Regions from separate parts of the Homo sapiens genome. Here region 2 is linked to region 1. The links come from fine-mapping of genetic effects on gene expression. A gene starts in region 1. The other region holds a variant in brackets. All regions are shown on one strand. Distances are from middle to middle.

Region 1 (15,860 bases):
CCAACCTCCTGCCAAATATTCAAAGTGGAAAATTGGGATCATAATTTGCAAAGACTTTTTCCATCCCAAATGGCAATTGATTAATCCCTCCTGGCAAACAAATTGCTGTGCCATCCCCTGTAAGTCAGATGTCCTCTGAGATTAGTGTAATTGAAACCCTCATCACTATCCAAAGATTTGAGGTGGTTCTAATAATTGGTACATGTATAATAGCTCCATCAGAATAGAAAACAAAAAAGTCATAGAAAGGGGAAAATAAATAACCCAAAACAATGAGGCTGATAAAATTCCAGTAACAAACAACTATAAGTTTCCTGGAGGTAATAGGAAAAAGGGGAAGTCCTAGATAAAAAATGATCATTGTTTAATCAAAATAAAGTAATCAAAAGAGAAGGGTTTTCTTTTGGGACTGTTTTTAAAAATTAATTCAATCATAATTTCATCATAATGATACTGTTATTTTTGCTTATATACATATATTCCAGTTCTTGTCTGCATGCAAAATAGAAATTTGTTTTTAAAAAATATTTGAATAAGCAAAACATTCACATAGTTTGAAAACAAGAAAGTATGAAAAATATATGCTGAAAAGTTTCCTCCCATCCTTGTTACACATCTCCCAGTTTCAAATCCCCTCACTCCCAGGCAGGCTTGTATCCTTCTAGAGTTTTTATGCATATTTAATAACGTCATTATCATCATCAATATCAACAACAAAATATATATTTTTATCTTCTGCTCCCTTTTTGCACCTTAATTTTTTTTTTTTTTTTGAGACGGAGTCTCACTCTGTCACCTAGGCTGGAATGCAGTGGCACAATCTCAGCTCATTGCAGCCCCTGCCTCCTGGGTTCAAGCAATTCTCCTGCCTCAGCCTCCCTAGTAATTGGGATTACAGGTGCATGCCACCATGCTGGGCTAATTTTTTGTAATTTTGGTAGAGACGGGGTTTCACCATGTTGGCCAGGCTGGTCTCGAACTCCTGACCTCAAGTGATTCGCCTGTCTTGGACTCCCAAAGTGCTGGGATTACAGGTGTGAGCCACTGTGCCTGGCCTATACCTTAATTTTTTTCACTTAACTACATATCTTTCAGGCTTTCCCATTTTAGCAGAAGGAAAGTATCAGTCCATGTGGGCAGTTAAAATACCTTAGACTGCATAATTTGTAAATATAGACATTTATTACTCACAGTTCTGGAGGCTTGGAAGTCCAAGATCAAGGCACCAGCAGATTCAGTGTCTGGTGAGCACTTATTCCTCATAAAAGGGAACTTCTAGCTGTGTCCTCACATGGTGGAAGGGGCAAACAGGCTCCTCAAGCCTCTATTATTAATATAATGGCACTAATCTCACTAATGAGGGGAGAATCCTCATGACCTAATCACCTCCGAAAGGCTCCAGCTCTTAACACTGTCACATTGAGTATTAGGTTCCAATATATGCATTTTGGGGGTCACCCATATTCACACCATAGTAGAAAGCTTCCTCATTCTCTTTTATAGCTACATGATTGTTCATTGTCTGGCTGTACCATAACTTATATAACCAGAGCCCTCCTGGTATCATTTGGGTTGCTTCCATTTTTTTGCTACTGCAAATAAAGCTGGGGTGAATAATCTTATACACATGTAATTTCATGTGTGGGCAAATGCAGCTGTGGGATAAATTCCTTGAAGCAGATTGTTGGGTCAAAGAGAAAATGCATTTGTAAATTTGATAGCTATCACCAAATAGAGATTTTAGGAACGTATACTTCCACCAGCAGAGTCAGAGGGTTGAATGCCGCATAATAGCCACACACTTAGCCAGAGCTAGTATCCTCTTACCACACTCCAGGGAGGAAGGAAAAGGCATGTGAGAAAGGAAGAGCTATTTATCCGATACCTGCTCTGTGCCAGACGCACTCTGTATACACACCCTACATACATTGTCTTCCTATAAGGCAAAGTGTGTTTCCCCGATTTTTATATGTGAGGAAACTGAGTCTCAGGTTAAGGAAATTTACACAACGTCTCAAGAAAGTAGAAGAGTCCTGAACCTATGGCTGGCTCTGAAGCCCGTGTTTGTTCCAGGGGGCCACGTCATGGTGCCAGGGAGAATATCTCAGCCGGGCTCTGGTGTTCCGCCAACGCTGTTTCTGTCAGCATTCATGAATGTGAACAGCGGACTTCATTTCCCAACTACTTTATTTTCTTGCCTGACTGGAACTTCAAGAGTCAGAGCTCTGCCCCGCTTAGAGAAATCTCTAGCAACCCCTCCCCACCTTTGTGCTCTCTCCCCAGGGCCCAGGCCCACTCCCACAAGTGACTTTTATATGTGGAGCAGTGCTCCTCCTGGTGTGGCTCTCCCAGAAGAGCATCCAGCCACAGTTCCAGGTCCCACGCTAGCTGCTCCAGCTGCTGCACCTCTTCCTCTAACTTCTCCGAGAAGACATGCAACTTCTCCTTCAGCCAGTTCCTGATGGTCTTTATCGGTTCTTCTGAGGGCTCGTTGGTCTGATATTCAAGCCCCTGGAAGGCAGACACAGAAGTGGCATCCTGTGCTTTCTCAGATAGGACCCTCCTCCCCATCCCCACTGGTTTCAAAAAGATCCCTGGGCCTTTGCACATGCTACTCATTGTGCTCGTAGTACCTGTTCCCACCTTCTGCACTTGACAAGCGACTACTTATCTTTCATGACCCATGTTGCCAATGACACCTCCTCTGGAAAGCCTTCCCAGATTGCCTCACCTCAGTACCTTGCTGGACATGTTACCTGGGGAACTGCAAGATTCTGGTAGTAGTTACATTCTCTGATCCTTTCTGACACCTCCCAACTGCTTCCTGAAACAGGCACAAACATCACCTCTGAAGAGCAAATGAGCACTAATTGAAATAAACATGGTTAGTTATCCCAGTGTGATGAAGGGTCAGTGGGAGAAGGTGGGTTATGGAGGTCCCCTTAACATACAACCATCTTTGGAACACTCCACCAAGCTTCATGTGGATTTGGTTCCTTCTTTCTCAGATTCCAGAATGCTCACCCCATATCTCTGTGCTCAAGTACAGCACCAAGATCAGCAATGCCAACAGCGTCTAGGGTGCAAGAAGAGGAAGAGGAGGAAGAACATGAGGATGAATTCTCTCCAGGTCCCCCTGCTTCCATCACAAAGGGCCAGACATGGGAATGCTTATAAGACAGTTTTTTGAGTTTAACTTTTGTTCTAGTTATCTAAGTCACACTTACTTACTACAAAACTCCCAAACTTTGAAGAAATAGATAACACTGCAACTTACTGATGTTCAATTTGCATTTTCTCTCATGTAAACATTTTTCATTTTAATTGATCTTGAAAAGGAATCAACTTCATTGTGGTATAATTTACATATAATAAAACGCACACATTTAAAATGTATAGTCTGATGAGTCTGATGAGTATTGATGAATGTCTATACCTGTAGACTATCACCCCAATCAAGATGTAGAGCATTTCCGTCATCTTAGAAAGTTTCCTTTTGCAGTCAATTCCATCCTCACTCCTGCCCTGCCTGGAGAGAACCATTAATCTGTTTTCTGTCACTGTGAGTAGTTTTGCCTGTTCCATAACCTTGTATAAGTGGAATTACACAGTGTGTGTGCTTTTGCATTTAGTTTCTTTTGCTTAAGACAATGTTTTCGAAATGCCTCTATTTTTTTGTGCTCAATTTTATTGATGAGTATATTGTGTATTTTATTGATGAGTATTTATTTTATATGAACATAGAATATTGCACAATCAGTCTCTTTACCTGTTGATGGACTTTTGGCTTGTTTCCAGTTTGGGGCTATTATGAATAAAAGTGCTATGAACACTCATATACAATTCCTTATGTGAACATATGTTCACATTTCTCTTGGGTTAATATTCAGAAATGCAAATGCTGGGTTATATGGTAAATGTATGTTTAATTTTATAAGAAACCACCAATGACTTTTCTTTACCCACTGAGCAACTATATGTGTCCCCATTTTTGTGGTAAATTGCATTAATTGTGTTTTAAATATTGAGCCAAATGAGCTTCTTCAGTAAACTCTAGTTGTTCATGATGCATTAGCTAGCCTTTTTATATATCATGTGATTTGATAAGCTACTATTTTGTTGAGATTTCTTACCTCTATATTCAGAAGAGATTGGTTTAAAATTGTTTCTAGGCCAGGCGCGGTGGCGCACGCCTGTAATCCTAACACTTTGGGAGGCCGTGGTGATCACCTGAGGTCAAGAGTTCGAAACCAGCCTGGCCAACATGGCGAAACCCCGTCTCTACTAAAAATGCAAAAATTAGCTGGCCATGGTGGCCGGTGCCTGTAATTCCAGCTACTCGGGAGGCTGAGGCAGGAGCATCGCTTGAGCCTGGGAGGCGGAGGTTGCAGTGAGCCAAGATTGCGCCACTGCACTCCAGTCTGGGTGACAGAGCAAGAATCTGTCTCAAAAAAAATTTTTTTTTCTACACGTTTGTCAAGTTTTGGTATCAAGATTTTGTTGCCCCCTTAAAATGAGTTGGTAAGAACTCCCTCCTCCTCTATTTTATGAAATAATTTGTGTAAGATTGGTATTATTTTCATCTCAAAGGATTGATAAAATTTATTGGTGAAAACTTTTGGGCCTGTAGTTATTAAGACTATTTCTTCTTGAGTCAATTTTGTAAGTTGTACTGCCAAGGAAGATTTGTCCATTTCACCTAAGTTAAATGTATTGGCATCAAATTGTTCCTAATATTACCTTAATATTCTTTTAATGCCTGTAAGAGTCATGATAATAATCCTCTTTTATTCTTTTTAAAAAATATATATAAAGAAAAGAGGTCAAGAGAGGAAACAAGAGACCTCTTTCATTCTTGATATTGGTAACTTGTGTTTTCTTTCTATGTATGTTTTTTGTTGAGTCTATTTAGAAGTTTTCCAATTCTTAATTTAATTTTACCAATTAAAAATGGTTATTAATTTTATTGTTTGTCTGCTTTACATTTCATTAATTTCTGATTTTGTCTTTATTATTTATTTCTTTATACTATTGAGTTTAATTCTTCTTTTTCTGCTAATGTGGAAATTTTGACCATGGCTTTTAAAGTTTTCTTGTTTTTCAAATATGTGTGTGTGTGTGTGTGTGTGTGTTTGTGTGTGTGTGCATATTGACTGACATTGAATTTTCCCCAAACTCACTAGATGTTGGCTGAGTCAGATCTAGTTTGCCTTAAAGAAAGAATAAATTTCTTACACACCCAAGTATGTGAAGTGACATTTAGACCCAGTACTAAACAAGGAAGATGAAAGATGTGTCTAACTTGCCTCTTCCCCAGATAATTTTCTTTATAATACTAGCAACTACATTACTATTAACTTAAAAAAAAAATGTTACATAGCAACAACTGGTTGAGTTTCACAGACACAATGATAAGAGAAAGAAGTCAGACACAAAGGTATACATGGTATGATTCCATTTACATGAAATTCAAGAACATAGAAAACTCAGCTATGATGACACAAATCAGAATCACTGCTATGAAGGGTGGGATGCCAGGTGGGCGGAGCCCCAAAAGAGCCTCCCTCAGTGCTAGAAATGTTCCATAGTTTGATCTGTGTGTACACCCAATGCAAAATCATCACACTGTACATGTAATATTAGGGTCCTTTTTCTTTTCTTAACAATATTCTTTAGGAATCTTTTCATGGAAGACACACACTAATTGTCACAATCTTTAAAATGGCTGATGAGTTTTCGTGGCCTGGAAGCTCTTCTATGTGTCTAACCAGTCCTCTATCAATGTATTTTACAGGTTGATTTCTTCCCCGGCATTCTTGCTGCTGGTTTCCATACTGTGCTGCATGGAGGCAAAGGGAGGAACATGGACTAGGATTGAGTTTGAGTCCTTTTCCTTGTGTCGTCTTGGGGCCTGAGCCAAATAATTTCTCTGAGCCTCAGTTTCTTCATCTGTAAAATGGATTTTGAAATACACTGCAAAGTCTTTCAAAAAAGAAGAAGTGGCTCACACCTGTAATCCCAGCACTTTGGGAGGCGGAGGCGGGTGGATCATGAGGTCAGGAGTTCGAGACCAGCCTGGCCAATATGGCGAAACCCTGTCTCTACTAAAAATACAAAAATTAACTGGGTGTGGTGGCGGGCGCCTGTAGTCCCAGCTGCTCGGGAGGCTGAGGCAGTAGAATCACTTGAACCCAGGAGGAGGAGGTTGCAGTGAGCCAAGATCGCACTGTTGTACTCCAGCCTGGTGACAGAGCGAGGCTCCGTCTCAGAAAAAAAAAAAAAAAAAAAAAAAAAAAAAAAAGGAAACAATGGGACTCTGGTAGAATCAAGGTGGGAAATGCTGTGGTAAACAAAGCTATGCAGACTTCTTTGTTGCAGGACTTCTCAGAGCCTTCCTTACGTGAATGAGCAGCGTCAGTCTTCAGGAGGGGATGCGGGTATGCAGCCTTCCCCAAGCCACAGAATTCTGTAAAGAATGTTTCTAAAAGGAGCATTCCTGGGGTCTGGTGTCTATGGAACACTTTTTAGGAAAAGCCGCAGCATGATGGGTGCCCATGAAGGCCCCTGTTATACGCTACAAGGTCCAGCATATAGAAGGCGCTCGGTGCATGTATAGTAAATTAATGAGTGAACAAGTCTTTTGAAAACAGAGACAGCAGAGCTCATTCATTCATTGCTCTGCTTAAAACCCGTCAACAGCTTCTTCTTATCCTCAGAATAAACCCTTGCTCAGGGTTCTCATAGCAGATGAACCTGGTTTCAGGGAGTTCTAAAATCAGATGGATGTGTTTTCAAATCCTGATATGTCCCAGTTGTACGGCCCTTTTGCCTTTCTGGGCCTCAGATTACCCTCTGTGAACGAGGTTGATAGCATCTAAGAGATGGGGTGTGGATGCACCAGGCTGTGTGCAGCAAGCATTAATGTTTTCCATTTTGACGAAATCCCACATGAGTTTTGAATTTCAGCCCTGAGAATGAATCCTCCAGGAGCGCTCCAATTCAGGAGTATTATCAGTTCATTCGTTCATTCAGCATCTACTTGGCACCAAGCACCATGCTAGGCACTAGGGATTCAGCAGGGAACTAAACAAAAAGCCCAGTCCTCCTGGAACATACCTTCTGCTGGCAGTGCTGAGAATTTAATAAGACAGTGTCAGTGATGGCCCCGGCAAGAAGTGCCTAGGCCCCTAAACTGTGCTCCATCAGAGTGGGATCCAGGGACGGTTGGGTCCAAGATTCATTCCGGGCTTTGAGGGACTTCTAGTCTGTCTGGAGTGGCAAAAGGAGCCCAGATGGGAGGAAAGCAGCATGTACCTGGCCTGGCCTCACCTGCTTCTCGTCATCACAGTGGCTGCCCCTTCTCCGTTCAAGCAGCTGGGCTGCCACCTGCTCTGCTGCCACCTGCCTTCTGCTGTCCACTTGCTGGGTTGCCATGGCCTCAGATCTGGCTGCCTGGGTGGACCACACTCAACAGACAGAAGGGCACCCTTCCCCTCCCCCACCTGTGGTCACCAGGCATCCTGCAAACATTGAGTTCTGATGTCACAGAAGGTAGGGACAGCAAGGTTCCCACCTTTCCACCACCCTGATTTTTAGTCCCTTCCCTCATTTTTATTTTTCACATGAGTGTAGAAAACAAAGATCAGGAAGAAATGCATCAAAAGATTATGTTTCAGGATGATGATTTTTCTGATTATTTTCTTCTATATTTGCAAGTTTTTAATAAAAATGCTAATTCTAAAATATAAAAACAATAGTTTGGGTGCAGTGGCTCACACCTGTAATCCCTAGCACTTTGGGAGGCTGAGGCTGGAGGATTGCTTGAGTCCAGAAGTTTGAGACTAGCCTGGGCAACATGGTGAGACCATGTCTCTATTTTTAAAAAATTACAAAAAAAAAAAAAACAATAAAAGCTATTTTTAATTGAAAAATGTATGGAGATAATTGTGGATTCACATGCAGTTGTAAGAAACAATACAGAGAGATCCTGTGTACCCTCTATGAATTTTTCCCCCAGTGGTACAGTAATATCCTGCCTCACTGCAGTAGGAGATCACAGCCTGGATGTGGACATTGATACACTCTACCAATCTTACGCAGACTTCCCCAGTGTTACTTGTTCTCATTTGTGTGTGTGTGTGTGTGTGTTTAATTCTAAACAATTTTGTGTAGGTTTGCTTACTTAGGACAATAGTCAAGACACAGAAGAGTTTCAAAACTACAAGGGGCTTTGTGCTGCTTCGTGATGGCTGCTGCCTCCCGACCCCACCCACACTGTCCTTAACTCCTGGAAATCACTCATCTGCTCTCTCTTTCTAAAATTTGTTTATTCCAAATGCTACATAAATGGAATGAAACAGTATTTAACCTTTGGGGATTGGCTTTAAAAAAAAACATAGTATAATTCCCTGGAAATTCATCCAATTTGTTGCATGTATCAGTAGTTCATTCTTTTTGACTGCTGTGTAGTATTTTGTGATATGTGTATGCCATAATGAAGGACACGTTCCAAACCTGTTCAAAACCCAGCTGCCTCCAGTTTTTGACTCTTGCGAGTAAAGGTGATATGAACATGCTTGTACATGTTTTTGGGTAAACGTAAGTTTCATTTGTCTGGGATAAATGCCTGAGAGTGCAGTTGCTGGGCCATAGCATCATGGCATGATAGTTTTATAAGAAATTGTCAAACTGTTTTCCAGAATGGCTGTGCCATTGTACATTCTCATTAACAGTGTATGAGTGATTTGGTTTCTCCTCATCCCCACCAATATCTGTTTACACTATTTGTTCTTTTTTTTTTTGAGACAGAGTCTCACTCTGTCGCCCAAGCTGGAGTGCAGTGGCACGATCTCGGCTCACTGCAAGCTCTGCCTCCCGGGTTCACGCCATCCTCCTGCCTCTGCCTCCCGAGTATCTGGGACTACAGGCACCCGCCACCACACCCGGCTAATTTTTTGTATTTTTAGTAGAGATGGGATTTCACCGTGTTAGCCAGGATGGTCTTGATCTCCTGACCTTGTGATCCGCTTGCCTCGGCCTCCCAAAGTGCTGGGATTACAGGCGTGAGCCACTGCACCCGGCTGTTTTCACTATTTTTTAATTTAACCATTTTGACAGGTGTTTAGTAACATCTCATTGTGGTTTTAATGTGTATTTCCCTGATAGCTAATGATGTTTAACATCTTTTCTTTTTTTTAAATTTTATTAAGCAATTTTTTATTATTTTGCTGGAGACAGTGTCTTGCTATGTTTCCCAGGCTGGTCTTGAACTTCTGGGCTCAAGCAATCCTCCCACCTCGGGCTCCCAAAGTGCTGCGATTACCGGTGTGAGCCACCATGCCCTGCCCGAACGTCTTTTCATATTAGCTTATTTGCCATCTGCACCCCTTCCTCAGTGGAACATTTGTTCCTGTCTTTTGCCCATTTACTAATTGGATTGGTTTTGCTACAGTTGAGTTTTGAGACAGTTCTTTGCTCATTTTAGATACTAGTCCTTCTTAGGATATATGGTTTGCAAATTATTTTCTCCCAGTCTGTGGCTTATCTTTTCAACTTCATCACATGGACTTTTGCAGATAAAATGTTTTATGTTTTGATCCAGTCTATCACTTTTTCTTTTATGAATTGTGCTCTTTCATGGCAAGTCTAAGAACTCTTCACCTAGCCCTAGGTTCCGAAGATTTTCTCCTATTTTTGTTTTTTTGGTTGTATAGCTTTACGCTTCACATTTCAGCCCATGATTCATTTGGAATCAATTTTTGTATAAAGTGTGGAGTTTAAGGTTAATTTTTTTGCTTATGGATGTCCAGTTGCTCCAGGACCATTTGTTCTGTATTCTGTTTCATTGATCTATGTATCTGTCCCTGCATCAATACCACACTGTCTTGACTGCTGTAGCTTTACGGTGAGCCTTAATAGCAAGTAGAGTGATTTTTCCCACTTTGTTTTTCTTTGTCAAGATTGTTTCAGCTCTCACAGGGCTTATGCCTTTCCATATAAACTTCATAACAAAATACTTTGCCAGCTGGGATTGTGATAGGAATTGCATCACACCTATGAATCACTTTGGGGAGAATTATCATATTTACTATGTGGTGTCTTCTATCCCAGGAACACAGTATGCTTCTTCATTTATTTAGGTCTTCCGTTTCATTTGTTTTTTAACCAGCACTTTGTAATTTTTGGCATATAGCTTTTGTACATGTTTTGTTAGGTATATACCTAAATATTTCATATTCTTTGGACTTTCCTTATACTTTAAAAGCCCCCATGTGCCAAACAAATTTCATGTGTTAAGAAATCATCAATGTTCCACATTTTGTGAATTAACTTTACCAAAGTTCCACATACAGAGCTCTGACTGGCACCCAGATAACTTACATACGGAGGCCGGCTATACACTAGGCATTTCACTAGATTACTTTACTACAGCTTCTCTAGGCTATTAATTCTGTGGGTAGTGGGGAATTAAATCTGTCTTACTAAACATTGCATTTCTGATGCCCCTTACGCAGCCCGTTACATAGTAAATGTTCAGTAAAAATACCTGTTGAAAGGATGAATAATGAACGGTCTCAAACTGCAGGCTCTGAGAGGCCAGGAACTTTGTCTGGTGAATACATTTTTGTATTCACAGTACTTGGCTCAGTAAATATTTGCCGAATGAGTAAAGCAGGTGGTATGATTTTTACGTTTTGAAGAAGCCGAGGTCCGGGGTGGCTAGGGAAGGGTATCGGAATTAGTGGGTGTCATGAACGAAGTACCTACTGTGCGCCTGACCCAGGGTAAGTCCCTTCCACACGTTATTTCATCTAATTCTCCTAACTGCCCGGCAAGGCCGGCACTGTTAGTTTCTGTTGGGAACGTTACTCTCCTTACCCAGTGGCACATACCCTGCCTTAGTATGGGTCTATTTAACTCCAACGTCTTCTCGTTTACCACAAGGAGTTAATGTAGTTTCAGCTAAAAACAAAGAAAGTGGCCATTCTTGTCTTTTGTGGCTTCACTGTCCGTAAGTAGATGTGAGATTTCCATTAGACTTTTTGAATATCCAACATAACCATCTTCCCTCCTGTCCTTCTGTGTCCAGAGTTTGTTCCTTTAGTGGCTTCACCGTCTCGCTGACTTCAAGAATGAAGCTGCAAACCCTCACGGTGAGTGTTACAGCTCTTGAAGGTGGTGGACCGAAAGAGTGAGCAGCAGCAAGATTTACTGTGAAGAGCGAAACAACAAAGCTTCCACAACCTAGAAAGGTACCTAAGCAGGTTGCCACTGCTGGCTGCAGAGGCCAGCTTTTATTCCCTTATTTGTCCCCGCCCACATCCTGCTGATTGGTCCATTTTACAGAGTGCTGATTGGGCCATTTACATCTTTTAACTAGACACAGAGCACTGACTGTGCATTTTTTACAGAGTGCTGATTGGTGCATTTACAATCCTTTAGCTAGACACAGAGTGCTGATTGGTGCTTTTACAATCCTCTAGCTAGACAGAAAATTTCTGGAAGTCCCCACTCGACCCAGGGAGTCCAGCTGGCCTCACCTCTCACTTCCAACTCCATGACTATCCCAGATTGGTGCGTGTGGCATTTCATGCAATCTCCACTCCTTTTTGCCTTTTCTGCATATCTTTATTATTATTACTAAAGCAGCTACGTTGTCTGGGATAAATATCCAGGGTTCGTCGTCTTATACCAGGTAAGTTTAGGACACGGACACACAAAATAGGCAAAAAGGGAGAAAGAAAAACAGCTCTAGAGACGGGGGGGGGCACTTCTCAGAGGAAAAGACCAGCCGGTGGTGGATGCACCAGAATTTTACAGTTAGGCTTGCGGAGGTGGTGTCTGATTTACATGGGGCTCACAGATTGGTTCCATGAGGTATGACAGTTACATAGCTGGGGAAGGCTAGCTGCCCCACCCTAATCTTATTATGCAAATGAACTTTCCCCTTAGCCGGGGCTGTCTTGTCTGCTCCTTAGTATACATGTGGCAGACAGAGAGAAGGGAAGACGGAGCCGCCATCTTGAACATGATTGGCACAACTGCAGCATCTATGTCTGCAGCTCGATTTTACAGGCTGTTCTTTGTCAGAAAGGAAAATAATTGGGGGCTGCTTTTCATTAAAAGGAAAACCTTACCGAGGACTTCTGCACCCTCACTATCTGACTAATTAGTTTCTTCTTAACTCCTGTATCATTACCATGTGCAACTAAGATATTTTGAGAGTTTTCTAAGTACTGGGCATTGTGCAAAGTGCTTTACATGCATTGGTTCACCATATAAATATTACAACTCTAGGTAGTAAATCATATTTTTGTCTCCATTTTACAGATGGGGAGACTGAAGCTTAGACTGAACACTTTTCCAAAGTTACTCAGCTGGTAAGAGGCAGGGCTGAGATTTGGACTCTACCATTCTTGTGACAGCACCCTGGCTCTTGGTGGCCGTTGGATACTGCTCCTTCCCTGGGAAGATTCAAGACCAGAGAAAGAAAGAGTCCAACCCAAGACAGTCCAAGGAAAGGTACCGAACTCAAGTCTCTTGCCTCCCACTTGAGGGCCCTCCAAAGGCCATTTGCATCATCTTGATGGTCTTGCAGGCACCCATGCAGTTGCTGGCTCTTGGGCTTTATCTGGTGGACACATTTGAAATGTCAAATGCAGGTACGTAAGGACTGCTCATTAAGCTAATTATGGCACATCAAAAGTAATGAATTATGGTCACAAAAAGTAATGAATTACAGTAAAAAAAATTACAGTCACACACAAAAAAAGTAATGAATTACAGTCACATTTTTCTAGGAAACATAATAAATTCTTCCAGGAAACTCCTTCGGAAGGCAGAGCTTCCAGGATTTGGTCTCAGGGCAGGGAGGAGAGGGAGGAAGAGCTTCCCCACCTGGCCCTCAGAGAACTGGCCCAGTAGCTGGTGTGGGCGGGGGACTGGCAGAGGGTCTAGTACAGCACTGGGTGCTTCACACTTCCTAGTAAAGGAAGAGGGAGAGGATGAGAAAGGAGAGAGAGGCCTTTGAAGGAGGGAATTAGGGAGCAAGTCAATGTGAGAATGAGTTGGCGGGGGCAGGGAATGAATGGAAATGTGTGAATGAATAAAGATTTCCAGGGGAATAACTAATCAGTCTTGAAAAATTACACTCTGCCAAGGGAGAAATCTGCCCCAAACCTAATAAGTGGAGACCAAGCAGTGCTTTGTGCTTGAGTCCTGTCTCCCAAACACACCTGGGTTCAAATCCTGGTATCATTGTAACATTCACTTGGGAAAGTGACATCATGTCTCTAAGTCTCAGTTATCTGAAAAGTGAGGCCAATAATAATAATATGTGTCTTACGGGGTTACTGGGAGCGCTAAACGAGATGAACTAACTGGATAGTGCCTGGCTCAAACTGGAACCTCAGGTAGTTTCTCTCTCTTCCCCCCTTCTCCCTCTCTCTCTCCTTCTTTTCCTCCCTCCCTCCCTCTCTCCTTCCTCTCCTCTCTCCCTCTCTCCCTGCCTTCCTCGCTTCATTCCCACTCCTGCCTCCTTTTCTCCTCCTCACTTCTCCAAGTATTTGATGGGCTGCCCCCATGCCAATTCAATTTAATTCTCCCAGTAATGTAAGATTGCAAAGAGTTTATATGAAAAGTCTATCCAGAAAACTGATAGAGATGACATAATTGGCAAGCCTGTACAGGAGTGGGTGGGGACTATGGAAGGAAGAGGACTGGATGGCTTCATAAAGGAGGAGGTGTTTTTGGCTAGCTGGAGGGGAGAAGAAAGGATGTCTGGGGAGACTGAGAATTATGGGAAAAGACCTCACAACCTGGGCCTGAAACCAGAACCCAGTCCTAGCCTGGGTCTGGTGCCTGCCTTTAGTCTACAGAATAAAGACTTGTATTTATAACAAACATTGCAAACTCAGATGCATACAGGTACTGAACAGTTAATAAAATGAGAGAAGTAGTCTGGGTGTGAAACGAAAGGGCATGGTGGGGACCATGGCAAAATCATAACACGTGTGTCCAGAAAGGCCAGCCAATTGTTGCATGAGAATGTGGGGTTCAGTGTGGTGAGAACTTCTGATTTATTTTCAAGAGAAGTAAGAAATTCAGTCTTTTGTATGAAACCTCCTGGCTTGTAAATGTTGGCAACAAATTCAACTTAGAAAAAAATTCACTTTGTGAGCCCAACGTACGCCATCAATTTGTGAACTCTCTTATTGTGTGTCTGCTGTGCTCAAACGAGGCTTGTCCCTAATCCTCGAAACAGCCCTGCTCTGTGGAGCTTGCTACCTGCTATGGCGAGCCACAGAAGCCCCTATGGCTAACTAAAATTGGAAACGGCCAGTCTTGGAGAGGAGAGAGGGACCTCCTGAATTTGATGGGAAGGCTGAAACTCCAGGGAGAAGAATAGCCGTTGGGACCATGGGCAGGGGCATACCACAGGCAGACACTGAACCAGAAAGGAATACTGGGGTAAATGTATACCCTGCGTGGTGGGATTCCAATGCCATGAAAGAATTCTAAATTCTCTTGGTGTCTGTGTTAGTTACTATGGCTTCTATAATGAATTATTACAAACTGGATGGTTTGAAACGACAGAAATTAATTTTTTGTAGTTCTGGAAACCATAAGTCTAAAGTCAGTAGCACTGGGCTGAACTCTCAAAGCATGCATCTGGCTGTGCTCCCTCAGGGGGAACCCATTCTTCAACTCTTCCAGCATCTGTGGCTGCCAGCATTCCTTAGCTTGTGGCTACAGCACTCCCATCTCTGCCTCCATGGTTACATTGCCTTATCCTCTTCTCTCTGTCTCTATCTGTGTGTGTGTGTGTGTGTGTGTGTGTGTGTGTGTGTGTGTGTGTGAAATTTTCCCATCTCCCTTTTATAAGGATTCATAGGATCATGCTGGGGCCCTTTGGATAATCCAGGAAAATCTCATCTTTTTTTTTTTTTTGAGATGGAGTCTCGCTCTGTCACCCAGGCTGGAGTGCAATGGCATGATCTCAGCTCACTTCAACCTCTGCCTCCCGGGTTCAAGCAATTCTCCTGCCTCAGCCTCCCAAGTAGCTGGGATTACAGGCACTTGCCATCATGCTTGGCAAATTTTTGTATTTTTGTAGACAGGGTTTCACCGTGTTGGCCAGGCTGGTCTTGAACTCCCGACCTTGGGTGATCCGCCCGCCTCGGCCTCCCGAAGTGCTAGGATTACAGGCATGAGCCACTGTGCCCAGCCAAATCTCCTTGTCTTAAAACCCTGCATTTGATGACATCTGCAAAGTCCTATTTTGCAATATGAGGTAATATTCACAGGTTCAAGGGATTAGGATGTGAGTATCTCTTGGGGGCTTTTCTCAGCCCACTACTGTGTCTTTGGGATGCTCCCTGCAGATTCAAAGCTCTGGGCAAGGACAGCTGCTAGGCTGAGGTAGGGAGGAGGCTGGAGGCTTCTGCTGCTCTTGAAGTGGGAGACAAGGCTGTGTCACCCCCAAGACTCATCTGATGGGTGATTACCTCCAGGAAAGGAGGGATGGAGCAGCTGAGTGTTGCCGCTCTCCCCTCCTCCATTCTGCACTGAGATGGAGACCTAGTTCTGAGAGGCTGGGGGATGTCCGAGCTCTCGGCCCCAGGAGGGCAGGTCTATCTCCCTCTCACAGTCCGTGGCACTCCAGAACTTAGCGCAGCACCTGCCACTGAGTAGAAGCTCAGTGTTTGTTCACAGCCTGCTGCCTCCAGGTTCTGTTCTCTCTCACTGTGGCAAGCAGAGGCTGGGAGGCCAGGCCAGCTGAGGGGCAAATGTACACATGAACACACAGCCTTGGCATAGGCTTGCCTGCTAGGGCCACAGGCCACACCAAAAATACCCTT
Region 2 (15,860 bases), 63 kb before region 1:
CCCACTCCCTACATCCCAGCTGGCTTATCCCGGGGCTGTTCTCTAGCATCCTGCTCTCAGTAGGGTGACTTGCTGTCTGCAACACGTTGGGTAACATCCTTTGACTCTTTGAGCCCCAGTTTCCTCGTCAAAATGAGAATATGAGCCACAGTAGATCTGCTAAGGCACATACAATTCTATTATCCTGGCTTCTGACCAACCCCTCTGTAAATTACGTTCAATAAGAGGTGATAAATAAGAGGTTAAAAAATAATTTTGATTTCTGCAGTCCCAACTGAATAGCAATGACCCATGTAGTCTCAGCTGCTTCCTCCTCTCAGACCAGTATTCCCAGCCCTCCACTCTGCTCACTCTATTGATCCAGGGCTAGAAGTCCCATTCAACTGGCTTCTGCAAAGAAGGGCGTTTATTGGCTTGTGTCACACATACCCAAGGAATGGGCTGGTCGCAGGCATGGCTGGATCTAGGAGCTCCAACTGTGTCATCAGCTCTTGGGCCTCACCTCCTTGCCTCTCTGTCTGGCTCTCCTTTCTCACAGTTTCATTCTAAAGCAGGCTTGCTTCCACATGGTATCCAGGTGGCTGCCAGCAGCCCCAAGAGCATGTCCTATCCTTTGAGTGTCTCTGGTGGAGCAAAATCTCTTCCCAGCAGCCGCAAGAGCATGTCCTATCCTTTGAGCATCTGTGGTGGAGCAAAATCTCTTCCCAGCAGCCCCAAAGAGTCATGGGACTAAGTGTCCTTGGCTCAGGTAGAATCATGTGCCCACCCTTAAAACCCACGGAAATAATCCCTGGTGGTCAGGGTTGGGGTCGACCCCACACAAACCACACGGGCTGAGAATGGAAGGGAGGCAGATCCCCAGAGGATTAGGATTCTGGGGTCCAAGCAAAAAGGGGAATGGAGGCTGGCCAGTGTCCCCTGCTGCTGCCACTAGGCACGCCTTTTCCTGTGGGAAATGACTACTTTTGCATGTTCGTCAAGGCCTAGCTCAAATATCACCTCCTCCCTGGTCCACAGAGCAGGAGCTAAAAGCCCTCAGCCCCTGAACTCTTTTTGAGCCGTTTTCACTTTCTCTTTGGTATTTTAGCTTTTAATGTGCACGAGCAGAAAGGGTCAAAATAGTCTGCCTTTGGGGTCAGAAAAGTTTGGGTTTGAATCTCATCGACGCTCTTCAGGGGTAAGGTGACCAAGGACAGGGCGCGGCTCCTTTCTAATCAGTCCTCCCTCCCGGACCTGCTCGGAGCATTCAGTGAGATGAAGTGAGCCCAGCCAGGGTTTATGGAGGACTTTTGATTTCTTCCATGCCAGGACCCATGTTTTGGTCCTCTCTGTGTCTTCAGCCCCAGTCGCAGGTACTAATAACGCAGATGTGTTGAATGAACAAACTCCTGGATTCCAGAACTTTGGGCATGCAGTGGAGTTTCCCCTTTCATGATGCTCAGATTCTAAAGTGAGCACTGCAGGTGGAAAACCATAGAGTCCAAGATGCTTGAAAAACCCTTAAAATGTGGCTTCAATACAGTACACAGTGTGTATGGATGGGACCCAGTGCAGTGATTCCTGCACCCATTGAGAGTTTGAGTACCATCAAGCTGGCCAAGGGCAAAAAGAGAAAAGTCTACATGCAAGCACTCAGTCATGCAAATGATTCTGCTTTTAAACTAACTATTGGGAGGGATAGGGAAGTGAGAAGGAAGAGGGAGACAAGAAAAGGGTAAATCCTAAATTTTAAATTGCCTGCAAGTTTCATTCCATTCGCTTTTTTTTTTTTTTTTTTTTTTGAGATGGAGTTTCACTTTTGTTGTCCAGGCTGGAGTGCAGTGGCACCATCTTGGCTCACTGCAAACTCCGCCTCCCAGGTTCAAGCGATTCTCCTGCCTCAGCCTCCCAAGTAGCTGGGATTATAGGTGTGCACCACCATGCCCAGCTAACTGTGTATTTTTAGTAGAGACCAGGTTTCACCATGTTGGTCAGGCTGGCCTTGAACTCCTGACCTCAAGTGATCCACCCACCTTGGCCTCCCAAAGTGCTGGGATTACAGGCATGAGCCACCATGCCCGGCCCCGTTCTGCTTTACTATGTAGCCTTTGTCATAGCTTTACTATGTGTGAGGAAGCTTTGTTGTGGGGAGAACAACTGTGATCATACACATAACTAAATGGAAGAGCCTGTATAGCAGGACATGGGGGCTCAGTGAACCCAGTGGGATTTGAACCCAAGTCTTGCTGATAGATGCATGGTTCCTGGAAAGCTGTAGAGGAGTTCTGGGCCTCTGCTGCCTGTGGGACCCACTGGTGGCCTCACCAAACTGGCTCTCACCCTCATGCCCTGAGACAGCAGTCACTGAGACTTAGGTTCTAAAACTGCAAGTGAAATTCAAGGGGTATACAACATGGTTCCCTTTTTTCAAGAATTTCAATTTTTAGTTTGGATTCGGGGGCACATGTGCAGATTTGTTACCTGGGCATATTGCATAATGGTGAGGTTTGGGGTACGACTGATCCCATCACCCAGGTACTGAGCTCATACCCAATAGGTGGTTTTTCAACACGTATCCCCTCCCTCCCCCCGTCTAGCCATCCCCAGTGTCTACTCCTGCCATCTTGGTGTCCATGAGTATCCAAAGATGTGGTCCTGTGGCTGCTGCCCCCTCTGTAACTCTATTGGTTGGAGAGCAGAATTCAGGAAAGCAAAGTTGACCCTGGCCCCCTTTCTGTAAGCCTTGGTGGCATAATTTCATTACCCAGGCAAGTACATAACCTTGATTACCTTCCTCATCTTGACCCCCACCTCCCAAACCCCATTCAGCCCTGTCTAGAACTTCTGGATACAGCACGTGGCCTTATTTTTCCAGGAACAAGGTTCATTGTTGTGCTTCTGCGGTGCCCACCACATGATTTCTGGGACAGCCTTGTCAACCCTCTGGGTGTGATCTCAGCCAGAATGTGTCACGATGGCAGACATGGGATGAAAGGAACTGGGAAGAAAGGAACTGGGATGTTCAAATGGTCCTAGACTCCACAGGTGCCCTCAGAGGCGAAGGGGCTTCCTGCTGAAGCCCAGACCCATCCCAGCAGCATTTGGACAGGACTGTCATTACTACTGAGGTCCCACTTTTGGTGACTGTGGGGTTCCAAAACGGTGCCTTTCCCTGGGCGAAGTCAGGCTGAGCTGGCACTGGCTCTTCGAGGAGCAGCCGAACCCCAAGTTTCCCGTGCTGACTCACGGAATAAGAGCCAGGGCCGTGGGCCACCTGCCTGGGGTCTGCCCTGGTTGTGCCACGAGGTCAGGAATTTGGGCAGGCTTTTAGCTCTCAGATCCCTCCGTAGCCGGAGTTCACAAAAACTTCGCTGCATCACTCCAGTGTCAGCTTTTGGTTTCTTGAGCAACTTCTCCTCCGCCACCAATTTGCTGATTCACTCAGTCTCTTCCTATTTAAATCCAAAGGGACAGAGCCTGATCAGCTCCATGACTTGAAACTCCTGGGTGGGGCTTTTTGTTCCAGCGTCCTCATAGGTCACCAAGCAGCCAATGGATGCGCTGCTCTTGAGTTCAGGGGACCCTTTTGACCAATCAGGGGGCATTCCTTGTTCAAGCGCAGCCTAAAGCCATTTCCCTCCCCCTGGGCCTCCTGATGGGATGGTTTCCCTTAGGAGGGCACTCAGGTGTGGCTGACACCATCACTCACAGATCAGGACCCAAACTCCGCCAGGAGGCTCTGCTCCTCCCCATCCACCCCAGCTCCTTGCTAAGCTTTGACAAGGTCAGTATAACTGACTGAGATCCAAGGGACAAATGCGCCCGTGTTTCATGGCTCCTGGAAGTGAGAGGGCTCAGCAGGAAGGCATTGGATTCACAGAGCAACATCATCAGCTCTGCAGCCAGGTCTCTGACTCCTACTCATTACCGCAGTGTCTACTGGAGTCTGACTTATCTCTTTTTATTTTTAATTTTAATATTTTAATTTTTTGTAGAGAAAGGGGTCTCGCTGTGTTGCCCAAGCTGATCTTGAACTCCTGGCCTAAAGCATCCTCCTGCCTCAGCCTCCCAAAACGCTGGGATTACAGGCACGAGCCACCACGGCCAGCCCATGACTTATCTTTAAATCCCAGTAGGTAGCCCAATGCCTGGCACTTGGTTGGCCCTCAGGATACTTTTCTTGGAGTAGCCATAAATAAGTGGGTGCCCCAGGGAGGTTGGGATGAGCAATACTGAGAAGTTTAAGGCACAGTTCTCCTGCCAAAGCGGTTGGTCTCTTTCCACCGTCACCTGGTTTCCCTGGATCAGCTATTACATCTCATTAATATCTTATATTTCATTTTCTTTGTAGTTCCCTTGCAATGTTTCCCAATGTGTGTCCTGTGGGACAATAGTTCAGTGGAATATTAATTAAGTATTATAGTGCAAAGGGATTCTGAGATCAAGTGAGTTTGGGAAATAGCAAGTTAAAGAAAAGGAAGCAGGTTTATTTGCTGAGGGACTTATCAGAGCCTTTCATGTGTTCATGGATGTTGTTACCATCCACAAAGGTAACAGGGGCTTTCGTGTTTCCCACACCTTTTTGACCTTGAAATCATTATTTTTTCCCCTTTGAGTATCTCACAGGACTAGTGTTCTGAGGAGCAGTACACTGAGAAATGGTCCTCTAGACAGAGAGGAAATGCTGTCTTCCCCCTTTATTGGCTATGTGGGATTCGTATAATTTGCTTATTTGTCGGATCCATTATTGCTGGGTGTGGGAGAGCAGGCATGTGTTAGACTGTCCATCTTCAGAGAGGTTTCCTGCTCTTCCTGTTCGTCCAGTAGTTATGGGCTGTGATTGTTATGGTGATAGCAGGGAGGCTGCAGACCCCAGAGGGGATTAGGCATATCTGTGTGTAAACTTTGGGCAATGTCTTTCTTTCAACTGGGCTTGAATCACAGCATTGCATACCCTAAGAAAACATCATGAGGTATATAAAGTTCCCATACTCCCATTAAGTGGCCTGGTTTTCGTCTTTAAGTATGGTGGGGCTGGTAGGAGTAGAACACGGGATGATGTATCACTTCTCCTGGGTTTCTCAACCTCAGCACGACTGACATTTGGATGGGATCATTGTTTGTGGGGTCTGTCCTGTGCCTTGTAGGATATTTGGCGGCATCCCTGGCTTCTACCCACTAGATGTCAGTAGCACGTATCATCCCTCCTGCCTCCCCATTGTGACAACCCAAAATGTAGGCAGACATTGCCAAGTGTCCTCTAGGGGACAAAATCCCTCTCCCATTGAGAACCACTGCTTTAAGAGAAGATTACCCAAAGTCTGTGCAAGGCTTTTGGAATACTCTTGGAAGGATTTTTATCATACTCTTGGAAGAAGGAAGTAGTGCTATCATGCTCAAAGCATGGTCTGAGAGCCTATAAGACGTGCCAGCTAATGAAACTCTCCCCTGGGGTGTTTTCGTAACTCATCCTTAAGGCTCGTATATCTGTTGAGTTTCTTGGTTGCAAGTTACAGAAAACCCAATCCAAAATGGTCTAAGCCAGAAAATGAATTTTTTGGCTGTGGTAACTGAAGAGTCCGACACAGTGCTAACTTTAGGCACAGCTGGATCCAGGTGCTTAAGCAGTGTTATCAAGAAACAAGAATTTTTCCAAATCTTTGCTCTGATTTCCTCATTATTGATATCATTCTCAGACAGGCTCTTCCCATGTGGCAGTGAGAAAGCTGCCAGCAGCTCCGGCCTACTCCTCACTAGAACAGATCTGGTGGAAAGGGAAAGCTTCTCTTCCCTCATGGTTTGAATGCAAGTCCTGGATCTGATTCCCATTGGCCTGGGATACTACGCTATTCTCATTAGCTGTGCCGGGTTCACACGCCTGTCCCTGGAGCCTGGGGAGGAGCCAACACCAACGGAACCATTTGGTGGGGAACAGGAGAGGAATGGTTCTTTAGAGGCAAACGGGGCAGTTACTTGAAGAGAGGTCAGCGGATGCTGGTCAGACAAGCACCTCTATTGCCTCATTCATAAAAATAACTAAACGACAGCCAATAACGGCAGCTCCCACTTGTCGAACATGAATTCTGTACCAGACCCTACCTATACTGCGTGATCGCTAATCACCACCAGCATCCTGAGAGGCAGCTGTTGTCAACCTATTTTACAGATGGGTAAGTGGAGTCTCAGAGGCAGATGAAATGACTTGGCTGAAGTCACAGAGTGGGGCAGTGGCTGAGCCACAGACCGGAGGCATCCTTTTACCTCCTCTAGGACACCCTCTGTAACTGACTTTCTTCCTGCTGCAATCCAAAAGGTCTCCCAAGGTCGCCTGTTGCTATTTTGGAAAGAGGTGGACAGATACTGGAGGGCCACTCTTCAGGCCACTGCCCAATCTTTTCTTGTCAATTTGATGTCAGCTTGTGCCAATCATCCCTGAAGGGCCATTCTGACACAGCAAGTAAGGGAAAGCTTGGCCGGCGTTTTCTGGTTTGGCTCTGTTCTGCCTGCTTGGTCCATTTTCCTCACCTCCGTTTTTGCCCGTTGCCGCTGTTTTTATCTTCCATCCCCCCAGGGAGCCTGCAGAGGGTGCATTAGTAATAAAGCTAACATTTCCAGAGAGAGAGAGAGATATCAAGGAATTTCCATGACATGATTTCATGAAGTTTTCTCAAATATCATATCAAGTAGACACTACTATTATCCCCATTTTACAGATGGAGCAACTGAGGCCTGGAGAGGCTAGAGGACTTGCCCAAGGTTGCCCAGCCAGCAGATGGGAGAACTGGTGTTTGAATCCAGGCAGGACCCATTGCTTTTATTACGGTACCAAAACTTCAGAAAATTGCAAACCAGTGGCCTGTGAGTCAAATCTGGCTAACAGATATATTTTGCTTGGCCCACATAGTATTTCAAAACCCATTTGAACTCATTGCCAATGTTTAAAAATTGAGAACCTGCACATCAAAAAACAAAATTTGTTCTTTTCTGCTTCTCTTGAAAAAAAAAAAATCAGAGAAGATTGGCACCACTGGGCCTACATTCCTGCCTGGCAGAGACCGGCTGGAGCTGCAGCTCAGTCCCAGGTGCCTGCTTTGGGTGGGGTGTGTTCCTCCAGCTGGATGCAGTCCCCACCACTCCCTAATACCTTCCCAGTGCTGAGGCCGGTGTCATTTGCTGTGGCTCACTGTGTGTGCTCTGCGGTGTCCCTTGCGCCCCTCCTGGCTTACCTGCCTGGCTCTGGAGGGCACATGGGCTTGCTGCTCCTCCCCCACATGCAGGAGCTCCCGCCAGCCTCTGACCACAGTGGTTTGGGGTTGCTGTAATCTCTCTCCACACATTCAGTGGAACGGTCTTCTGCTGGTGAAGGTCTGACTTAGGCACTAGAAGAGTTGGACAGAGCCCCAAATTTTCCTTTCCTCCAGTACCCCAATCCCACCCCCTCCCACACTTTGGTTTATTGGTCAGCAAAGGCCACTTTCTTGGCAGTGTTTGTCTTGGGTACACAACCACTTTTTCTTGCTCCCCGCAGAGCCCCCTAACGTTTTCTTCCTAATCCTCCTCAGGAGAACCATCACTCGGATTATCATGAAACCCGAGCGTGTGCGCATGAGGTGCGACCCTTTACAACCGGCGGACCATCTCGTTTCTGCCCAGTTCTGTTTGTTTAAACTCTTTGCTGGCAGGACCCCAGCGCAGGGGCAGAGTTCCATGGCGTTCACAGGCAGATGTTCTGGCCTGTTGCAGGGACCAACGTTAAAAGCCGGGGCAGGAGAGCTGGTGGCCGGAATCCAGGCCCTGGGGGCGGAGGGCACTTCACGGAGGAAGGAGAGGGAGTTCAGGGAGGGAGTTCAGGGAGGAGAGGGATTGGGGATGAAAACAACAGCTCACTGTCCTTTTGCAAATGGAATTTACAGGCCCCATTTCATGCATGAGAACACTGAGGCTTAGAGAGGTGGGGTTACTTGAACAAGGTCACAAGGCTGGTTAAAGTAGGGAAAATAAATGAAATATTTTACAGTTCATGGCATAAGAATACGCCAGTTTCAGGCATGTAGATGATGATGATGGTGGTGGTGGAGATAATGATAATGATGATGACAGGAACTGAAGGGCACAATTAAGGCCTTAAAGATCTCCTGGATGTGGTCACTGTAACCTGTCAAGGCATGACCTGGAATCTTTTACAGCATGGCTTCTCTCCTAGAATCACAGAGTGGCCAAGAGTGAGGACGTTGACACTACACAGACC[T/C]GGGGCAGACCCGGCCCTGCTGCTGAGTGGTTGACTGGCCCCAGGTGAGTTCTGTAACTTCCATGAGCCTCAGGGTCCTCATCTGCAAGATGGGAGGAAAGAGGAGATCACAGGAATTTTGTGAGGAATAAATAAAAGAATGTATAGAAAGCACAGAGCCTGTGTCTGGCATGCAAGACTTGTTGAGTAAATGTTAACTTTTCCTGTTTTACTGTGAAGTGGCAACATGAGGTCCTGCACACAGCCAGGGTTCAGTGAATATGGCTAAGCCCAGAGTCCTTATTGGGAGAAAGTGGCCAGAAACCAGGCTCAAACTCCAGTGCCTCAACTTCCTAAGCGTATGCAGCTTGAAAGAACATTACACCCCCTCAAAGGGGGTAAAGTCAGTGTGGGGGATGACACTTCCCTTCAGGTTTGCTGGGGGATGAGACGCTGCCTGTAAAGTGCTCAGCACATAGTAGGTGCACAACAAAGTTATTGTTCATGTTGAGAACTAGTCTCATGCCCAGACTGGGCTCACCTCAGAGGGGTCACACACATTCCTTTTCTTCTGGGAAATCAAGGTGAACTGGATGAATGGCTCAGCACCTTCTCACATGCAGACCTGCTGGGAGTGGGAGGTGGACCTACGGGGTTCTGCACCATCTGGAGCTCATTTCATGGACAGAAAGGAAACAGAAAGGCAGGCACGCTCTCCTGAGGGCCTACTATGTCCAGATGCTTTGCTTAAACAGAGAATATTTATTTCTCAGTCACAAACTCAGGTGTGCAAAAATGCAACTTTGTGTCCAGAACGCAGTTAACTCTGGTTTCCCACCCACTCCATGTGCCTCACCACAGGCTGCTTAATCCAGTTCTCTTCTGGCTGGAACTCAGGGATTTAAGCTCTGATTTGGGTTTGTAATTCAGGTTTCCTCCTCCCTCTCTGGGTGGTGGAGGTGGGATGCGGGGGATGGGGGGCTCTCTTCTGGCTCTGCCCCTTCTCTCCAGCCTGGCTCCCTGGGTCTGATGACTGCTCTACCAAACGGTGGCCTTGACCTCTGTCTGGTGCTGGCCCTGGAGCCCCGTGAGATGTCAGCCTGGATGTAGTGGGAGGTCTGCAGGAGCCCCGCTCAGGAAATGCGGATCCCTTGAGGCCCTCTGCAGGTTTTCACAGGCGCTGACACCCAGCGCTTTCATCCTGTGTCCCAGGGTGGGAACATCTGCATCCCCATATTTCAGGAGTGCCGTTGCCTGTGCACCCACAAGAGGTCTCATCTTATCCTGGCAACAGCCTGTAGGGTTGGGAGCAGCTGCGAGCCATTTGTGCAGGAGTGCCCGGGGAGATGGTTACGTGCTTCATCATTCAAGCTTGCCCTCCCTCTCCTAGGTAGCACTGCCTTGAAACTACTCCTAGCAAGAAACACAGCTTCTGATCATGGGAGAACCTATTTGCATCACAGTTCACAAACATGCTTTTAGACACTCTCCACTTCAGTGGAGGAAACAGAGCCCCAGCGAGGGGAAGAGACTTACCCAAGTCACGTAGCTAAGAGGCAAAATCAGGATTCAGACTCAGCCTCCCAGCGCTCACTCCACAGTGCCTTGTTGGCCCAGCCCTAGAAGGCCTCCTGGCTGGAGGCCATTGCCTGAGCCTGGGGATGACACATATGTCCACTGGATGTCATGATTTCTCTACTGAAGCTAGCTGGACCTTCTTGGCAGTGACATAGGATTTTCCCCCTTCCTGGGGCAAAGCAGTCTCATATGGGACACTCAGGTGGTGGCTCTCCCTCCTTTTGGCTCAAAGACAGGAGGTAAGGCCTGCATCCTGTTTTCCTAGGGTGGGGAAAGTCTGCACACAGGTGGATCCACTCTTTCCTGGGGACCTGGGATCATTGCAGCCTTCTCCACCCCACAGGCCCCTCCACAGCCTCTGCCCAAATCCCCTTTCCCGGACTCCAAGTTGTATCACCTTAGTTAACGCTTCATTCCCCAGGTGTCTAAGAAAAAAATGTTCTCCCCATGCAGTTTCTCCACCTGGGAAACAGGCGGCCTTCTCTCTCTCTACGTCATCAAGTCAGTGCAGAGCGCATGGAGCAGCAACGCCCTGCCCAGCTCTGGGCTGCCCGCTGCGTGCTGAGGATCCAGAGACAAACCAGCCATGCTCCTGGCTGAGCGGAAGGTCCTCCCGAGCCTGCACAGTCTGAACTTGCTGAGGTGAGCGCTCTCTGCATTGAGATGACAGGGAAGGAAGCACAGGCATTTCTGGGGGAGTCACGGGGTCGGCCTTCGAGGCCTCTCAAAGTGCTGAGGCTTAAATGACAGGGCATGTGGAGCTGGAGCAGGAAGTGAAAGGCAGGGGTGGGCCTCCTTAAAGAAGAGCCCTGCGGCACTGCCATCCATCACCCACACCACCTTCAGCATCACCTCCCCACTAGGCCCTACCCCACCACCCCAAGGCAGTGGGGAGCCAGGCCAGGGCTCAGCACAAGAGAGCCTGGCCTCTTGTCCTTTGATTCTATTATCAGCAAATGACCTTGGGAAAGTCAGTTGACCTCTCTAAGCTTTCGTTTTCTCATATGCAAAGAGAGAACAACACTTAGGCAGTGCAATCATATATACAGAAAGTACTTTGGAACAAGCAAAAAATAAATAAATAAATAAAAACACTGATTTGGTGTTTGTCAATTGAATGTTTTGATAACATTTATCAAGATAATCTTCATTAAATATTCTAAGAGTGGGCCGGGTGTGGTGGCCGAGGCAGGCAGATCACCTGAGGTCAGGAGTTTGAGACCAGCCTGGCCAACATGGTGAAACCCCGTCTCTTCTAAAAACACGAAAATGAGCCGGGCGTGGTGGTGGGCACCTGTAGTCCCAGCTATTTGGGAGGCTGAGGCAGGAGAATTGCTTGAACCCAGGGGGCGGAGGTTGCAGTCAGCCGAGATCACACCACTGCACTCCAGCTTGGGTGACAGACCAACACTCCATCCCCACCACCCCATCTCCCCCAAAAAATATATATTCTAGGAATGAAGCCCGAATGGCCAATGGACATGCAAGGAATGGGGAAAGATCCAAATTAACCAATGGGGCACATTTGGCAATAACTACTGAGTCCTGATTTTATAAGCCGGAGGGAAAGAGCTTTATTCTTTACCAAATTTTAACTAGGGATGGCTCATGCCTGTAATCCCAGTGCTTTGAGAGGCTGAGGTGGGAGGGATTGCTTGAAGCCAGGAGTTAGAGACCAGCTGGGGTAACATATCGAGATCTTGTCTTGACAAAAAATTTTAAAAAATAGCCTGGAGTGGTAGTGTGTCCCTGTAGTCTCAGCCACACAGGTGGCTGAGGCGAGAGGATCACTTAAGCCCAGGAATTTGAGGTTACAGTGAGCTGTGATTGTGCCACTGCACTCCAACCTTGATGACATGGTGGGACCCTGTCTCTAAAAATAAAACAACAAAATAAAAAAAACTTTATCTAGTGCTGGGAAAGTGCAGTGAACAAGACAGGCAGCCAGCCAGACAGAAAGTATGTCCACCCTTTTCACATGCAGTCTCTCCTTCATCTTTCCATGAATCCAGTGAGGAAATGGGCTTGGAGAGGTAAAAATGAATTTTCAAAAACATATAGCACCAATAGCAGACAGGTGCTTCACAAAGAAAAAAAAAAAAACACAAAGCAAATAAATGTTAGCTACCATTTCATGACCACCATGAAAGGAAGAATTATTTAATTATTTTACCCCAGAGCCTACTTTTTCCCCCTTGCAGTCTCCCTAGGACTGAACTCTCTTTCATTGCACGTATACCTGTTGTATTCATTGGGATGCATTCTGCTGTAAGCAAATAGGATTAACCAGCTAACAGAGGCCTATACAATCAAGACATCTTTTTTTTTTAAACAGAGTCTTGCTCTGTTGCCAGGCTGGAGTGCAGTGCTGTGATCTCGGCTCACTGCAACCTCCGCCTCCTGGGTTCAAGCGATTCCTCTGCCTCAGCTTCCCGAGTAGCTGGGACTACAGGCCCACGTGACCATGCTTGGCTAATATTTTGTATTTTAGTAGAGACAGGGTTTCACCTTGTTGGCCAGGATGGTCTCGATCTCTTGACCTCGTGATCCACCTGCCTCGGTCTCCCAACCCAAAGTGCTGGGATTACAGGCATGGGCCATGGCACACAGCCAACATCTTATACTAGATATCTGCAGGCCGGCAGTCAATCCCAGGTTGGTCCAATGACTTGAAGTTAGCATCAAACTCTCTCTTTCTCTTTATTCTGCTGTCCTCAATGTATTTCCTTGAAGAGTCCAGACATATCCCCTCACAGTCAAGAGGCTACCACAGCTTGGATCATCATGTCTTCGGACGCTGTGTTCGAGGCAGAAAGTAGGGGCTCCTCATTTACTAAGAAGAACAGAGGTTCTGCAGAGTCCAGGCGTGTCTTTGACCAGAACTGGATTACATGACCATCTCTAGCTATAAGGAAAGGGAAAGGATCAGTCAATGAAGGGGAATGGGAGTGCCTGGCTTTCTTAGATCAAGCGTGCATCCCCTAGGGCACCTGCTAACACTTGGGGTTCTGTTAGCAAAGAGGAAGTGGGAGGCTGGCTGCTGGGGGCAGGAGGGGACCTAGGCAGCTCCCGGCCCCCATCTCCTCTCCAGATGGTTACATTCCAGAAATGAGGGAGGAAGTCTAATCCAGCACTTGGGGTAACACTGCTGTCATGGTTGCTCCTGATGGGAGGATGGGTGTGATCAACTGAGGAGTGGGGGTGTGGGGCTGAAGGTAGAGGGGGAGAATTGGAAACCTTGAGTAGCAGGGACTGTGTCAGGCATTCTCTGTGGCCCCAGGTGAGGCCAGACACAGCATGAGGGTTCAACAGGTGTTGGTTGCTTGAATGAATGAACGAACGAATGCAGGGACAGGGGCAGGACTCATCTGCTCTGTCACCTGGTGCTCTTAACCCCGCAGGGCCCCGATACATTCCTTCTAGAGCCTGGTTCCAGGAAAAATGTTGTCTCTGCCGAGGTCTGAACATGCTTTCTGTTGTTGGAAAATGAAAACTATGCAACCCCATGTGCTTCTCTTTCTGCCTTAGCTGCCAGAAGCCAGAGCCAAATGTGTCGCCCAAGTATGGGGGCTGCGCTCCCTGGTTTCTGAAGCACCACCTCGGCTTCCTTTGGGGAGCACTGTTCAGATTCACCTGCCTTGCGCCAGAATCTCTGGGCACCCCCATGCCTAGCCCAGGGCAGGAGCCAAGTCTGAAAGAAACTCAAGTGCTTGACAAGCTCATCCGGGAAAGCACAAAGCTGTCGGACCTGAGAAGGACGTCTTATCAAAGTCCACACTCTCCGATCTTAGAGGAGACGAAATAGGAGGGCAATGGCTTCCGTCAAGGCTGAAACCAAACATTTTGGCTATATCTGAACGACCACTGAATCACCGAGTCCACCGTATTTTTCCACTTTCAAGTTGTTTCTGGGCTGCTGTGGAGACACGCCCTTCCTGGGTTTAATGGCCCTCGTGTCAGGCTGTGGGGAGGAGGCGTGTTTACTTTTTGCAGGGAAAATAGTGGTTAATGGTGGACGGATGGACCTGATTAGTAATTGGGTGATTTATCCCATGAACGTTCTTTGGGTTTTCCCGGTGGTTTGCACTTGAATGTCGGCTGAATGAAGTAGGAGGAGGGACTAAGAGGAAGATGGTTTCGAGGAGAAAGGGGTGGGGTTGGCTCAGGGTTGAGGGCTGTTTCAGGGACAGGTGGAGGTTTGCGCAGATCAAGGGAGAAGGTTGTTCCATCTGTTGTCCAAGACTCTTCCTCTATGTTCATTCACTCACTCGCTTAATCGCTCACTCACTCATTCACTTATTGAAAGCTATGAAATTCTGAGCACCTTCTCTGTGCTGGGGATACAGCACACCTCATACCTCCTAAGTACCATGCAGCCAGTGTGATGAATAAGCTCTCTTTCTGCCATGGACTGAGCCTTGTGTCCCCGGCCAAATTCCCGTGTTGAAATCTAATTCCCAAAGTGATGGTATTTGGAGGTGGGGTCTTTGGGAGGTAAGTAGGTCTTGAAGGTGGATCCCTTGTGAATGGGATTAGTGCCCTTAAAAAAGAGACTGAAAAGAGCTCCCTGGCTCTCTTTCCACCATGTGAGGACACAAGAAGAAGTCAGCCTTAACCCAGAAGAGGGCCCTCACCAGAACCTGATCATGCTGGCACCGTGATTTCAGACTTCCAGCCTCCAGAACTGTGAGAAATACATTTCTATTATTTATAAGCCACCCGGTTTCTGGTATTTTGTTACAGCAGCCTGAGCTGGCGAAGATGCCCTCCTTTAGAGGAGCGTGCAGACTTGATAAGGGAAACAGATGGGCCAACAGATAATTCCCAGCAGAGGTGTGTTCAAACATGAGGTAATAACAGCTAACGCTTACTAGGCATTTTCCATGTACCAGACACGGTTCTAAGTGCTTTTCATGTATTAATCATTTGTTTCTCTCAACAGCCCTGGGGACTAGGTACTAAGCAGATGGAGGAACAGAGATGTAAGTAACTTACCCAAGATCACACAGCCAGCAGATCTGCACCGAGGCAGTGTGTCCAGCTTTTTATCGTCATGGTATCCAGGTCTACTTTGGAAACGAGGCGGCTATGCCTCAAAAGGGAAGGGTTCCCAGAGAGAGTGATGTTGGACGTGGGCCTTGAGGAGGAAGTAGAGAAGTTTTAGAGGTAGAGGAGGCCACAGCAAGATGCCCCAACAGCTGAAAGTGCCTGTCACGTGCCAAGAGTGGCAAGGGGTGGAGGTTTCCTGAGAGGGGAAGTGGAGGAGAGGCCGGCAGGGCCAGACTCTGATCCTTTCTTGAAGGAGTGGCTTGGGTAGTCCGATTTTAAATGAAGAAAGAGCTCTCAGCGGGGTGCAGTGGCTCACGCCTGTAATTTCAGCACTTTGGGAGGCCAAGGCTGGTGGATCACCTGAGGTCAGGAGTTCAAGACTAGCCTGGCCAACATGGCGAAACCCCGTCTCTACAAAAATACAAGAATTAGCCAGGCATGATTGTGGGTGCCCGTAATGCCAGCTACTCGGGAGGCTAAGGAGGGAGAATCGCTTGATCCCAGGAGGCAGAGGTTGCAGAGAGCCGAGATGGCACCACTGCACTCCAGCCTGGGTGACAGAGTGAGATTCCATCTCTAAAACAACAACAAAGAAAACGAAAACAAAACAAAAAAAAGAAGGAAAAAAAAAGGAAGAGCTCCCAGGCAGCTCAGTAGAGAATGGCTTGAGAGGTGGGGGAAGATTAGAGGCAGGGGAAAGTGGACACCTGCTGTTTCAGCCCCCTAGCACCTGCTCTTCCCCAGGAGACAACCTCCTTTGTTCTGAGGCCTGGTGTTTTCACTGATGCTGACTGCTTGAGGGGTGGCACATGACTCAGGTCTGGCCAATCAGCCTCTTCCATCCCCCTGGCTGCAGGGACTGGCTCAGGAGGGTGCATGTGACCAGAGGCCGACCGATGAGACTCAGTTCTGAGATTTTTGTTAGACTTGTTGCAGAAAAGAGACTGTCTCCTGAGGTTGCTGAGCTGGGTATCTCCACCAGGAGCTGCAGGGGCCATGCTGTCACCATGTGAAGACAGGTTGCTTG

Direction of the effects. Alleles are on the strand shown, and positions count from the first base shown. SD is a standard deviation of normalised expression in the study named.
As copies of C replace T in region 2, the expression in lung of the gene that starts at base 7,489 in region 1 goes down (small effect, 0.26 SD a copy in GTEx).

Evidence for each region.
Region 2: its variant is fine-mapped to the expression of SMIM23 in lung (GTEx, PIP 0.93).

The regions. Positions count from the first base shown.
Region 1 is chr5:171,777,446-171,793,305 of GRCh38, reverse strand. SMIM23 (small integral membrane protein 23) reads right to left here and starts at 7,489. Exons shown (of 4, transcript NM_001289970.2): 1 at 7,330-7,489; 2 at 3,025-3,076; 3 at 2,757-2,824; 4 at 2,170-2,511. The coding sequence starts at 7,434. The coding sequence ends at 2,218. RefSeq lists an enhancer at 11,310-12,509.
Region 2 is chr5:171,840,072-171,855,931 of GRCh38, reverse strand. LOC107986476 (a long non-coding RNA gene) reads left to right here and starts at 7,814. Exons shown (of 3, transcript XR_007059052.1): 1 at 7,814-10,023; 2 at 10,238-10,426; 3 at 13,313-15,860. The variant T/C (reference allele first, on the strand shown) is at 8,228.